3 linked regions of the Homo sapiens genome follow. The protein of the gene in region 2 interacts with the protein of the main gene of each other region in a pairwise test. Each region holds a gene or a part of one and is shown on either strand. Other genes may lie near its edges. The genes, in order: PIAS1, WFS1 and TRIM35.

What was found.
Region 1: the proteins of WFS1 (region 2) and PIAS1 interact in binary tests that used the Homo sapiens proteins (3 or more experiments, as listed by UniProt).
Region 3: the proteins of WFS1 (region 2) and TRIM35 interact in binary tests that used the Homo sapiens proteins (3 or more experiments, as listed by UniProt).

The regions. Positions count from the first base shown.
Region 1 is NC_000015.10:68,060,763-68,064,416, reverse strand, and holds part of PIAS1 (E3 SUMO-protein ligase PIAS1), read right to left. Parts: intron 1-3,654. UniProt on the Homo sapiens protein: Functions as an E3-type small ubiquitin-like modifier (SUMO) ligase, stabilizing the interaction between UBE2I and the substrate, and as a SUMO-tethering factor. Catalyzes sumoylation of various proteins, such as CEBPB, MRE11, MTA1, PTK2 and PML.
Region 2 is NC_000004.12:6,286,833-6,290,486, reverse strand, and holds part of WFS1 (wolframin), read right to left. Parts: intron 3,395-3,654; coding exon 3,312-3,394; intron 1,501-3,311; coding exon 1,356-1,500; intron 1-1,355. UniProt on the Homo sapiens protein: Participates in the regulation of cellular Ca(2+) homeostasis, at least partly, by modulating the filling state of the endoplasmic reticulum Ca(2+) store.
Region 3 is NC_000008.11:27,301,157-27,304,810, reverse strand, and holds part of TRIM35 (E3 ubiquitin-protein ligase TRIM35), read left to right. Parts: exon of another isoform or gene 1-50; intron 51-3,654. UniProt on the Homo sapiens protein: E3 ubiquitin-protein ligase that participates in multiple biological processes including cell death, glucose metabolism, and in particular, the innate immune response.

The sequences.
Region 1 (3,654 bases), on a different chromosome or scaffold from region 2:
CCAAATGTTGACATATTTCACTATGCAACTTCAACATAACACATTCATTAATATCACACTGATCTTATCAAAAAAGTCAAGTATTGGGAAACTGTCAAGCTCACAGTGGCAAATACATGTCTTCCAAAGTTCTATTTTCATTTGAAAGCTTAAATTTTATCATTAGTAACAAATATTGTCAGTTGTTTTCCCTGTAGTGACAGGCACACTTTGTTTATTTTCATGAAAATGTATGCCAAATACCCTAGTCTGTATAACCATACTTTGCCAGCCATTTTTTCAAGTAAAAATGGTATTCCATTTAAAAAGCTCACAACTCAACTGCACAAGTTCTTTTCCTTGAGTTAACCATCAGATTTGATATTCAATAAAAGTGTTTTACAGGTACTTTTCATTTCATCATACAAAATATATTTTTAAATGTACTCAAGGATTGAGATACAATAAAATTAGTAAGTTTTATTGCTTCATCAAGGACATAAAGTTTAACTGGCATTTTTTTTTTTAATTCCAAGTGCACAGTGATGAAGAACACAACTACTAGTACAATTTAGTACCAATGCCTTAATTTGTGCCAAGGTGCTGGCAGTTTTACCCACCACTGATTTTGCAAATGTCAGCACGTAAATAATGCCTATTATTAGGAAAATCATTTTGACCTGGAGAACCCTCAGAAAAACTTCGGGGAACCACCAGAGGCCTGAGAAATAGACTTTGAAAACCTCTGTAAGAACTGATGCATTACTTGTATAATTTTTAAAAAGATAATTTTTAGTAAACATTCCGCTATAACAGAAATATTTAAATAAATATACACACATATGTGATAATATATTAAAATCACCAATAACCTGGTACCTCATACACAGCAGATACCCAAAAATATAATAAATAACAGAATGTGATAAATAATTCTTTAATAAATAACAATTACTGAGAATCTACTATAAGCCAGTTTCTGAGCCAGTTCTGTGCCTCTTCAGTCCCCTTCTTGGGTAACTTACAGAAGCCCATAGACCAGAATGATGATTTTAACATATGAGAAAAAATATTTACTCTGAAATCTTTCCAATCTTTAAGATTAGACTTGCATGACTGCAAGAAAAAGTCTTAAAATTCACCATAAAGCACAAGATAGCATGTTAAGTTCTATTTTAAGCACTATGCCATGAGCTTTTTTAAAAACAGGCTTGCTCACATTCAGAAACCCAAATACAAAATGAATTGCTTTGGCTGAGCACTGCCAGAACTGCATAAAGACCCTGCATTCCATTTCTCCTCAAGCTATACAACCCTTACCTGTGATGTTTTCATTCCTATTGTTAAGTGAAACTCCAGCATTAATACTACAGAGGTTACATTAAATGTGGCAATTATTTTTTTAAAAAAACCAGTAGTGTATAGCAAAACCATCAAAACAAGTTGTTAAGAACTTTTAACCATATACACTGATAAATTCAAGAGGTAAATCTCTATAAACATACATAGGAAATATTACACACTGTTAAAAAGAATGAGACCATCTCATTGTCTGGACATGTCATGGAAAGATCTTCACTATCTATTGTAAAAAAAAGCAAACTGTAGGATGCTACATATGGTATGGTCTCACAGTTTTAGAAAAGATATTTATGTACATGTACATTCACTTAAGTTCCTTCTATGTGCCTAGTTTTGTTCTCATCTAGACATACACACACACAATAAATTAAAAATATTATACAGACATACACATTTAAATGCCCATGCAGAGAAAAAAATGAATACAAGACCAGACACAAAAAGTGACATATTTTTATTCCATTTATATTAAATGCCCAAAATAGGCAAGTCTACAGAGACTCAAAATAGATTATCAGTCGCCTAGGGCTAAGAGTGAGGTAAGGTTTGGGAAGGGGATGATGCTAAAAGGATGTAGGGTTGCTTTTCGAGGTGAAAAAATATTCTAGAACTGATTGTGGTTAATGGTTACACAACTTTGTGAATATACCAAAAACTACCTGACTGTGCACTTTAACGAGGTGAACTGTAATGGGATATGTTAATTTTATCTCAATAAAGCTGTCACCTCCCCCTGCCCACCCAAATAAGAATACACAGATATACACCAAAATGATTCCCTCTAAGAATGAAGATGATGAGGTCTTTCCATTTTTACCCTATTTACTGTTAGATCATTACAATGAGAAGTGTAGTCACTTATTATCTCTATAACTTAAAATAATGTAAAAGGTAAATCTAAAACAGCCCTTGATAAATTATTCTGGATTTAATGTTATTCAAGTTCATCTAAGCAGCAGCAAGAAAAAAGAGCGAAGATATGACCCTAAAAATATTTTCAATTTAGATTGTCTTATAGACAAGAGTATCAGGCCCCAGTCTCTGACAGAAACAAATCTTAAACATAATTTGTTCATCTGACACATGTATATTAAAAACACCTATTGTGTCCACAGGGTAGGGATGGGAGAATGGGGGGTGTACAAACAGAACACCAGCCAACAAAAAGACGCAAACTAACAGCTCTGGCTTTAAGTTAAGGGCTTTTGCTATACAGCTGAAGAGACAAAACACACACACAAAGTGGAATGGGGCCAGACAATAGAAAATCTTGAATACTAGACTGAGAACTAAGTCTTTATCCAGTTTTCGATAGAAAGCCATTCAAAGTTTTTATAGATAGGAGTGACAGAATGAAAGGAGTGTTTTGGTGAAATTAACCCGGCAACCAAAGCGGGTAAACTGAAAGCAGTGAATAGCAAAAAAGGTAAAAAAGAGATTAAGTTTTCAAAAATAGGAACGTTTACAACAGTCCTATGAGAGTTACTGATATCTCCATCATTAGTTAATATTCAAAGGATTTATGTTTGTTTTGTTTGCTTGATCTAAAGAAAAGCTGAAAAATAAAAAGGTGGTTTCTTCATTTTGACGAATTTTAGAAGTTCATAGCTAAGAATGAAGACTTACCAGAAAACTCTGAAGGAAGGGTTCTAGGGAATTTTCTTTTCATGTGACACTACTGAAACCAAGAGTAGAGGGAATCAAAAGTAACAGGAGTTGCACAATTTTTAACATGGAAGGGGAAATATAGTCATAAACATCTAGCAAAAAGTGCAGTGGCAATTAATACTACTTCTGAAATTGATGGTTAAAGACAACTAAGTACTTTAAAATTGTCTCTACTGCCTATTTCAAAGAAATCCTAATGATAAAACGTTACATAAATACAGATTTAGGTGAAGACCAAAGTCGAACGAATCAAATTTAGAGTACGATCAATTTCAAGTTCCTTCTACATGCACTACTTTTCAGATGTTGCACAAATAGCATTCTTAATTCACATATGCATTTATTAATTGGTTTAACTCATAAAGGTTTTTTCTAAAAATAAAAATGCTTTCATTGCCTATGTTATCTTTCTAAAACCAGATCCTGGGCCAGGCACGGTGGCTCACGCCTACAATCCCAGAACTTTGGGAGGCCAAGGCGGGCAGATTACGAGGTCAAGAGATAGAGACCAACCTGGCCAACATGGTGAAACCCTGTCTCTACTAAAAATACAAAAATTAGCTGGGCGCAGTGGCGCATGCCTGTAATCCCAGCTACTCGGGAGGCTGAGGCAGGAGAATTGCCTGAACCCCGGAGGCAGAGATT
Region 2 (3,654 bases):
ACGGGGCCAACCGGCCTCCTCCCTTGCACGCTCTGCCCCAGCAGCCTCTGGGCTATCCCTGGCACCCAACAATGAGCCGTGTGGGCCGCCTGAGCCCCCTCCAGGTCATTCCAACTGCTCTGGAATCAGCAGGCTGGGTTGGTGAGAAATTCTGGCTAACAATGCCACTGTTAGTTTTTCAAAATCATCAGTTTAATTTTCAAAGAGAAGACTCTGTATAATAAATGTAACTCTTAAAATATGATACAAGCTGGGCATGGTGGCTCACGCCTGTACTCTCATCACTTTGGGAGGCCAAGGAGGGTGGATCCCCTGAGGTCAGGAGTTTGTGACCAGCCTGGCCAACCTGATGAAACCCTGTCTCTGCTAAAAATACAAAAATTAGCTAGGTGTGGTAATGCACGCCTGTAATCTCAGCTACTCAAAAGGCTGAGGCAGGAGAATTGCTTGAACCAGGGAGGTGGAGGTTACAGTGACTTGAGATCGCACCCCTGCACTCTAGCCTGGGCGACAGAGTGAGACTCCATCTCAAAACAACAACAACAAACACAGAAGGAAATACACCAAAATATGGGGAGTTGCTTCTGGGCTTCAAGGTTATGAGTAATTTGTATCTTTATGTTTTCTACATAGTCCAAGTTTTCTATGATAAGCATAAAATACTCTTACAATCTGAAAAAAAAGGTATCATTAGAAAAAACACCTTTGTGACACCCACTTTCATCTTTCCCTGAGGCGTGGAACCTTCAGGAAGCACACTGCCCCACGGCACCAGGGACAGCCACTTCCCTTGCGCAGGACAACGTCCTAACTCACCACCCCTGGCCTGAGCTGCGTCCCTTTCCTCCCCTGCCTCTCTGTTTGAAAGAGATTATCTATGAAGGGTCAGCCTGCCTCCTCCCAAAGTGAACATGCTTGTCCAGGTCTGTGTGGGCCCACAGCCCCTCAGCTGGTCTGCCCAGACTCGACGGACATCAGCTCAGGGGCATGGGCCACTCTGACTGCAGGCCACATTACAGTCTCCAGCTTTGCCTCAGGGAAACTGCCTCTCAGCTGAACCCAGGATCGATGTCTCAGTTTGGATCAGAACCCAGCAGGGAAGCAGGATGTATAGTTACCACTTGGAGATACCAACACAAGCCAAAGAGAATGAAAATGGCTTGGTCTGTTAAATATCCCATGTTAAGTCCAGAAACAGTGTCTAAAATGAGAAGGCCACCAGCAAAACAGAAACTGAAATTTCCCAACAGCATCACCAGCGTTAGGTTTGGTAAGATTTTAGTTGTTCAGTTAGCAAGCAGCATTACAAGCTGCTCAACCCTCCAGAGGCTGTTCTAAGCCTCACACAGACCCACCTCTTCTGTCCGCCAAGCACCGGCGAAGCAGCTTCACAGCCTCGCGACGGCCCTGCTTCGCGGCGAGGACCAGCCAGTCCACAGCGGTGCAGCTGTTGAGTTCTTCATCCGTGTCGCCGGCCAACTGCAGGTAGTGCTTCCCCACCTGCAAGCCAGACACCAGTCAGCCTCCAGATTCTCCGACCCTCTCCCACCCCATGCTCCCTGCCAGCCCACCTCCTTTCACCCACTTCCCTTTGTCACCCAGGCCAGGAAGGAAGGGGCAGAAATGGGGTCACACCAGGCATGTCCACTAGGCTAGGCCCTACTGAGCCTCCGGCCACTCGCTCCTCAAAACACGGTGAGGAAGGTGTGGCCACCCCATCCACACGGCGAGGGAGACACGGGCTCCGACTGGTACTGGTACAGGTTCTCTTCCTTGAGTTGCTCCTGCCTGCCAAGGCTCACCATCAATGCATGGAAATCAGAACCATGACTGGGTCCTTTACACCTCTCAAAACAGTCAGGGGACCATAGAAAGCCAGGGCTGGAGAGACGCCAGCTAACCAAGGGTTAGCACTGGCCCACTGCCTGTTTTTGCAAATAAAGTTTTATTGAAATACAACCATAACCATTCATTTACATGTTGTCCATGCTGCTTTTACGTGCTCCACAGCAAAGCTGAGCAACACGGCAGAGATTGCGCAGAGTCCAGAATATTCACTATCTGGCCCTTTGCAAAAAGAATCCCTGCTGAAATGGTCCAGTCTTCTCATTCTACAGATGGAAAAAGTGAGGCCCAGGGCACAGAGAGCCCATAAAAGGGCTTACTATGCTCCCCCCGCCTCCAAATGCCTGGGCAAAAGGATGTGGGAGGAACTTTAAAGTACAATATGGCTGTGAGGTCAGGAAAGAAATTTTTTTTTTTTTTTTTTTGAGACAGAGTCTTGCTCTGTTGCTCAGTTGGGAGCGTGGTGGTGCGATCTCGGCTCACTGCAACCTCCACTTCCTGGGTTCAAGTGATTTTCCTGTCTCAGCCTCCCAAGTAGCTGGGATTACAGGCATGCACCACCATGTCTGGCTAATTTTTCTATTTGTAGTGGAGACACGGTTTCATCATGTTGGCCAGGCTGGTCACGAACTCCTGACCTCAGGTGATCCACCCGCCTCAGCCTCCCAAAGTGCTGGGATTACAGGCGTGAGCCACCGCTCCCAGCCAGAAATTCTTAATTTATGGTTTCGCGTGGAAGCTTTTCTCCTCTTTAGGGAGAAGAGGGGGCAGGAAACTGCTCAGGATAACTGTGGTCACTTGCTTGAGCCCTGTGCAAGGGGACAGAGTGAGGTGGTGAGAACTTGCCTCCACAGAGGACACAGGACCCCCTGCCACCTCCCGTCTCAGCGTTCTGCTGGCTTCTCCCCTCACCAGAATTCAAAATCACTGTATTTCTGTGTCTTGTCTACTTGGGTTTTTTGGGTCTGCTTCTTCCACTAACCTGTCACCCATGAAGAGAGGGCCACATCATGTCCCCAGCACTGGCACAAAGCCCAGCCCTTGGCTGATGCCCAAGTGAATGGTCACCGCTCTGAGGGCCCCGTGCACACAGCTAACAGCCAGGTGAAAGGCCAGTCAGGGAGACAAGAGTGGGCAGCATACACAGTGTATGTTGAGGGGTGGCACTGAGCAGGCAGCTGCAGGAAGCCAGGAGGTCATCCTGGAGGAGGTGATGCCCAAGATGAGGTGTGAGTTGGACAAAAGGGGGATGAGCGCTGCTCCCCAGAGGAGTGCCAGGAGGAAAACTGGCACAGTGAACATGGGCACCCTACCAACATGGGGCTCAAGTGGGGTAGGGTGCACCACGCTGGCTCCTGACCCCGATCTCAGGCACCGACACTTCTCTGTGGGCTGTGGAGCTCGTGGCCAGGCCTGTTGTGCCGGGGGCCGCGTCCCGAAGTCCCTGCCGGCACCGCAGTCCTCACCTCAGTCTGTGCCTTGGGGTCCCCGGCCTTGGCCCTCTCCAGGACTTCTTCAAAGGGGATTTCCATGTCTCCCTTTGTAGGCCCTTTAACACAGAAGAAACAAACACACATGTCACAAAGCCAGACTTTGTCACTTGTCAGGATGGAGGGGACAAGGCATGAGGGTCTTCAGATCTGCTGCTGCTTGTCACTTTCAAATCCAGGCCAGGAGTACAGAGAGACACAGACACAGACAGGGAAGATGCCCAGAAAGCCACTGTTTGCCTTCCGGTCACAAGCAGCGCCAGAGCAAGATGAGCAAACTCTATGCGGGTGAGGTGGTTCAACAGCAACTCAAAGCGCT
Region 3 (3,654 bases), on a different chromosome or scaffold from region 2:
AAAGACAAGGCTCCAAACCAGCTCTCCTAACCTTCAGTCCAGGAGGCAAGGTATATAGCAGAAAAAACACAGGCATTCCATGTACTCATTGACTGGGCAGGTGGTTAACTGAACATCTACTTTGTGCAGGGACTTGGACATGCAGGGGACAAAACAAAGTCTCTCACCTTGCAGAGCAAGCATTCCTTCTGCAGAAGTGTACCGAGCACCACTATGCAAGGTAGAGAGGACCTGGAGGTTAAGACCTGCCCTCAGGAAAGAGAAGCTATTACCCTGGATAGTGAGTGCTGAGACAGAGGTGGCCAGGGTGCTGTGATGCCCTGGAATGGAACCTGAGCTGGCAAGATCGGGGGGCTTCCTGGAGGAAATGAGGGGTACTAGAGCCGAGTTTTCAAGGTGATGTTGGGTTAGTTGGGGGAAGCAGGTGGGAACCAGGCAGAGCAACAGTGTGTATCAAGTCTCACAAGACAGAAAACCTGGCTCAGGCCAGACAGAGCTGGTTTCACATGCAACTCTAGCACTTTGGTAAGTCCTTGCAAAGAGGCTATGAAGACCTTGTGCAATGAAATTCATTCTTTCCCTTGCCCCTACCTTCCTGCTTCCAGCTATACCACAGAGCACCTGTCCTGTTAATGAAAATTGTGGGTAACGTGATTTTGTAAAGTGCTTAAGATCTTCAATATGCAATTGAAATTTGTTGCTTAAGGAATCAACTTGTCATTTTTGGGAAATCATGTAGTCTATATGATCACATTCTGGATCCTTTAGTATGAATAAAAACCTATTTTGTGTGTGTTTATAACTAATCTTTAACGTAGGCTGGACGCGGTGGCTCATGCCTGTAATCCCAGCATTTTGGGATGCCGAGGCGGGCGGATCACCTGAGATCAGGAGTTCAAGACCAGCCTGGCCAACATGGTGAAACCCTGTCTCTACTAAAAATACAAAAATTAGTTGGGCATGGCGGCAGGCACTTGTAATCCTAGCTACTTGGGAGGCTGAGGCAAGAGAATTGCTTGAATCTGGGAGACAGAGGTTGCAGTGAGCCGAGATTGCGCCACTGCACTCTAGCCTGGACAAGAAGAATGAGACTCTATCTCAAAAAAGTAAAAAATATAAAATAAATAAATAAAAAATCTTAATGTTATAATGTGATGCTAACATCGAAGCTTGTTTGCTCTCCTGAGCTTGGGCTGGGGGATGCTCCAGATCTGTTGTGGGCCCCTGCTACTGCCCATCTCTGCTCATTCATGTGCTCCTTGGGCTACAGGCAGGCCCCTTGAGTGGTAGTTCTATTTGTAATCTAAGCATATTTAGGGTTAAAATTAATACCAAAAGCAAACAAAATAATATTGTTTAGATGCATTCAAATTCACACTTCTTACATGTCATATTTCCTAGGTGAACCACTAGATGCACAGAAGGGGAAAATGGAATAAAAAATGTGTAGTAAATTTTAAAAAAGGAAAGGAAGAAAAAGAAAAATAGAATAAGCAAGACAAATAGCTCAGAACAAGGTGGCAGATTTAAATGCAAACATATCGGTAATTATGTGTTAAATACTCCAGTTAAATGAAAATGTTGATCTGACTGGATAAGAAAACGAAACCTAATTCTGTGTTGCTTAATATAATTATCTCAGTGAGAAAACATTTGATAAAATTTACCATCTTTTTGTGTTTAAAAAAACAGGAAACTAGAAATGGAAGGAATTTCATTAGTTTGATTAAGTATATCTAGCAAAAAAACTTACAGCAAATATCACATTTAATGGCAAAACATTGAAAGCTTTCTTATTGAGATCAAGAAAAAGACAGGAATGCGCATTATGACCAACTCTATTCAGTTTTGTGTGGGATAGCCTTGTCAATGAAGTAAGCCAATAATTATAAATAAAAGATGTAAGGTTTGGAAAGAAGGGAAGCAAAACTGGCATGTGTAGATAATATGGTTGCATATTTTTGCACTGAGATTTCTATGTGTAGAAAATAAAGATTCTACAGTTAAATCATAAGTATTAATAAGTTTAGGTGAATGCTGAATCCAAAATCAAGATGCAAAACCAGTTGTATTTCTATGTATCACTAGCAAATAGAAAATAAAATATAGGCAGGGAGTTTTACACCTGTAATCCCAGCACTTTGGGAGGCTGAGGCAGGAGGATCGTTTGAGCCAAGGAGTTTCAGACCAGCTTGCACAACATAGTCCAGCCTGTCTCTACAAAAAGTTAAAACAAATTAGCCAGGTGTGGTGGTGCATGCTTGTAGTCCCAGCTACTTGGGAGGCTGAGGTGGTGGGAGGATCACTTGAGCACAGGAGGCTGCAGTGAGCTATGATTGTGCTACTACTGCACTGCAGCCTGGGTGACAGAGGGGGACCCTGTTTTGGGTTTTTTTAATTTAAAAATATGTTTACAATAATATAAAAAATAAGATAACTAGGAAGAAATTAATAAAAGATACGCAAAACTCTGATAGGGAAAAATATACTTCGTTGAGAGCTATCAAAGAACATTAAGTAACTGGTGTGATATATTATGTTCGTGGATTAGTAAAGTCAGTATTTAAGCCTTTCAGTTTTCCCCAAATTGATCTATAGAGACAATATTGTACTAATCTAAATCTCAACATGATTATTTTTATGCAACTTCACAGATTCTAAAATTTATATGACCCTCAAAGGGCCAAAAATTGCCAAGACATTCTTGAAGAGAAACCTATCAGAAATCCTCTCTTTTTTACAGCTATAGAAATTATGGCTGTGTGATGTTGGCACAAGGATAAACAGATGGGCCAGAGAAACAGATGGAGAGAACCAAAAAACAGATCTGTGTCTGATTTAAGACAGAGGTGGCTCTGCAGACCAGTGGGCAGTAATGGTCTTTTTAAATAATGGTGCTGAGACAATGAGCTACCTGGTCACACCATGTGCAAAAATAAACTCCAGGTATCCACATCAGACCTAAATGTGAAAGGAAAGCTATAAAGCTTTGAGAAAATACTACAGAGCTATACAATAATAATGCAAAGCTATAAAGCTTTGAGGAAATAATACGATTGTTTTTGTGATCTCAGTGTAGGGAGGTGTTTCTTAAAACTAGTATACTAATCCTAAAGGAAAAGACTAATAAATTTGGCCATATTTCAATTAAGAAAGATAAATGATGAAGTAGAAAATATTCATTACACCTCTAACTAATCAAGGACATACATTGTGTATATATAATAAATTCCCACAAACCAGTTAGGAAAATGGCAGGCAACGCAATGGAAAAATGGACAATACTTTACTGAGTACTTAAAAATAAACATTGAAGTGGTCAATAAACATTTTCTATTAACATTGCTCTTGCTGTAAAAATTGGTACCACTGCTTTGGAAAACAATTTGGCATTACGCAGTAAAGTGAAGACACATATGGTGGCCCAGCAGTTTTATCCCCAGGAATATATTATGAAGAAACGAGTTCCCATGTGTCCCCAGGAGACATGTACAAGAAGGTTACCTCCTCTGGGTCTAACTTGATCCTCTGTATAATGGGACTCACAGTGCTTAACCTTATAGGGAGAATTCGAATTAAATAATTGAATTAAATAGAATGTTTGTAAAGTGCATAATTTAGTGCCTTGTGTCTAGTACATGCTTAATAGTAACT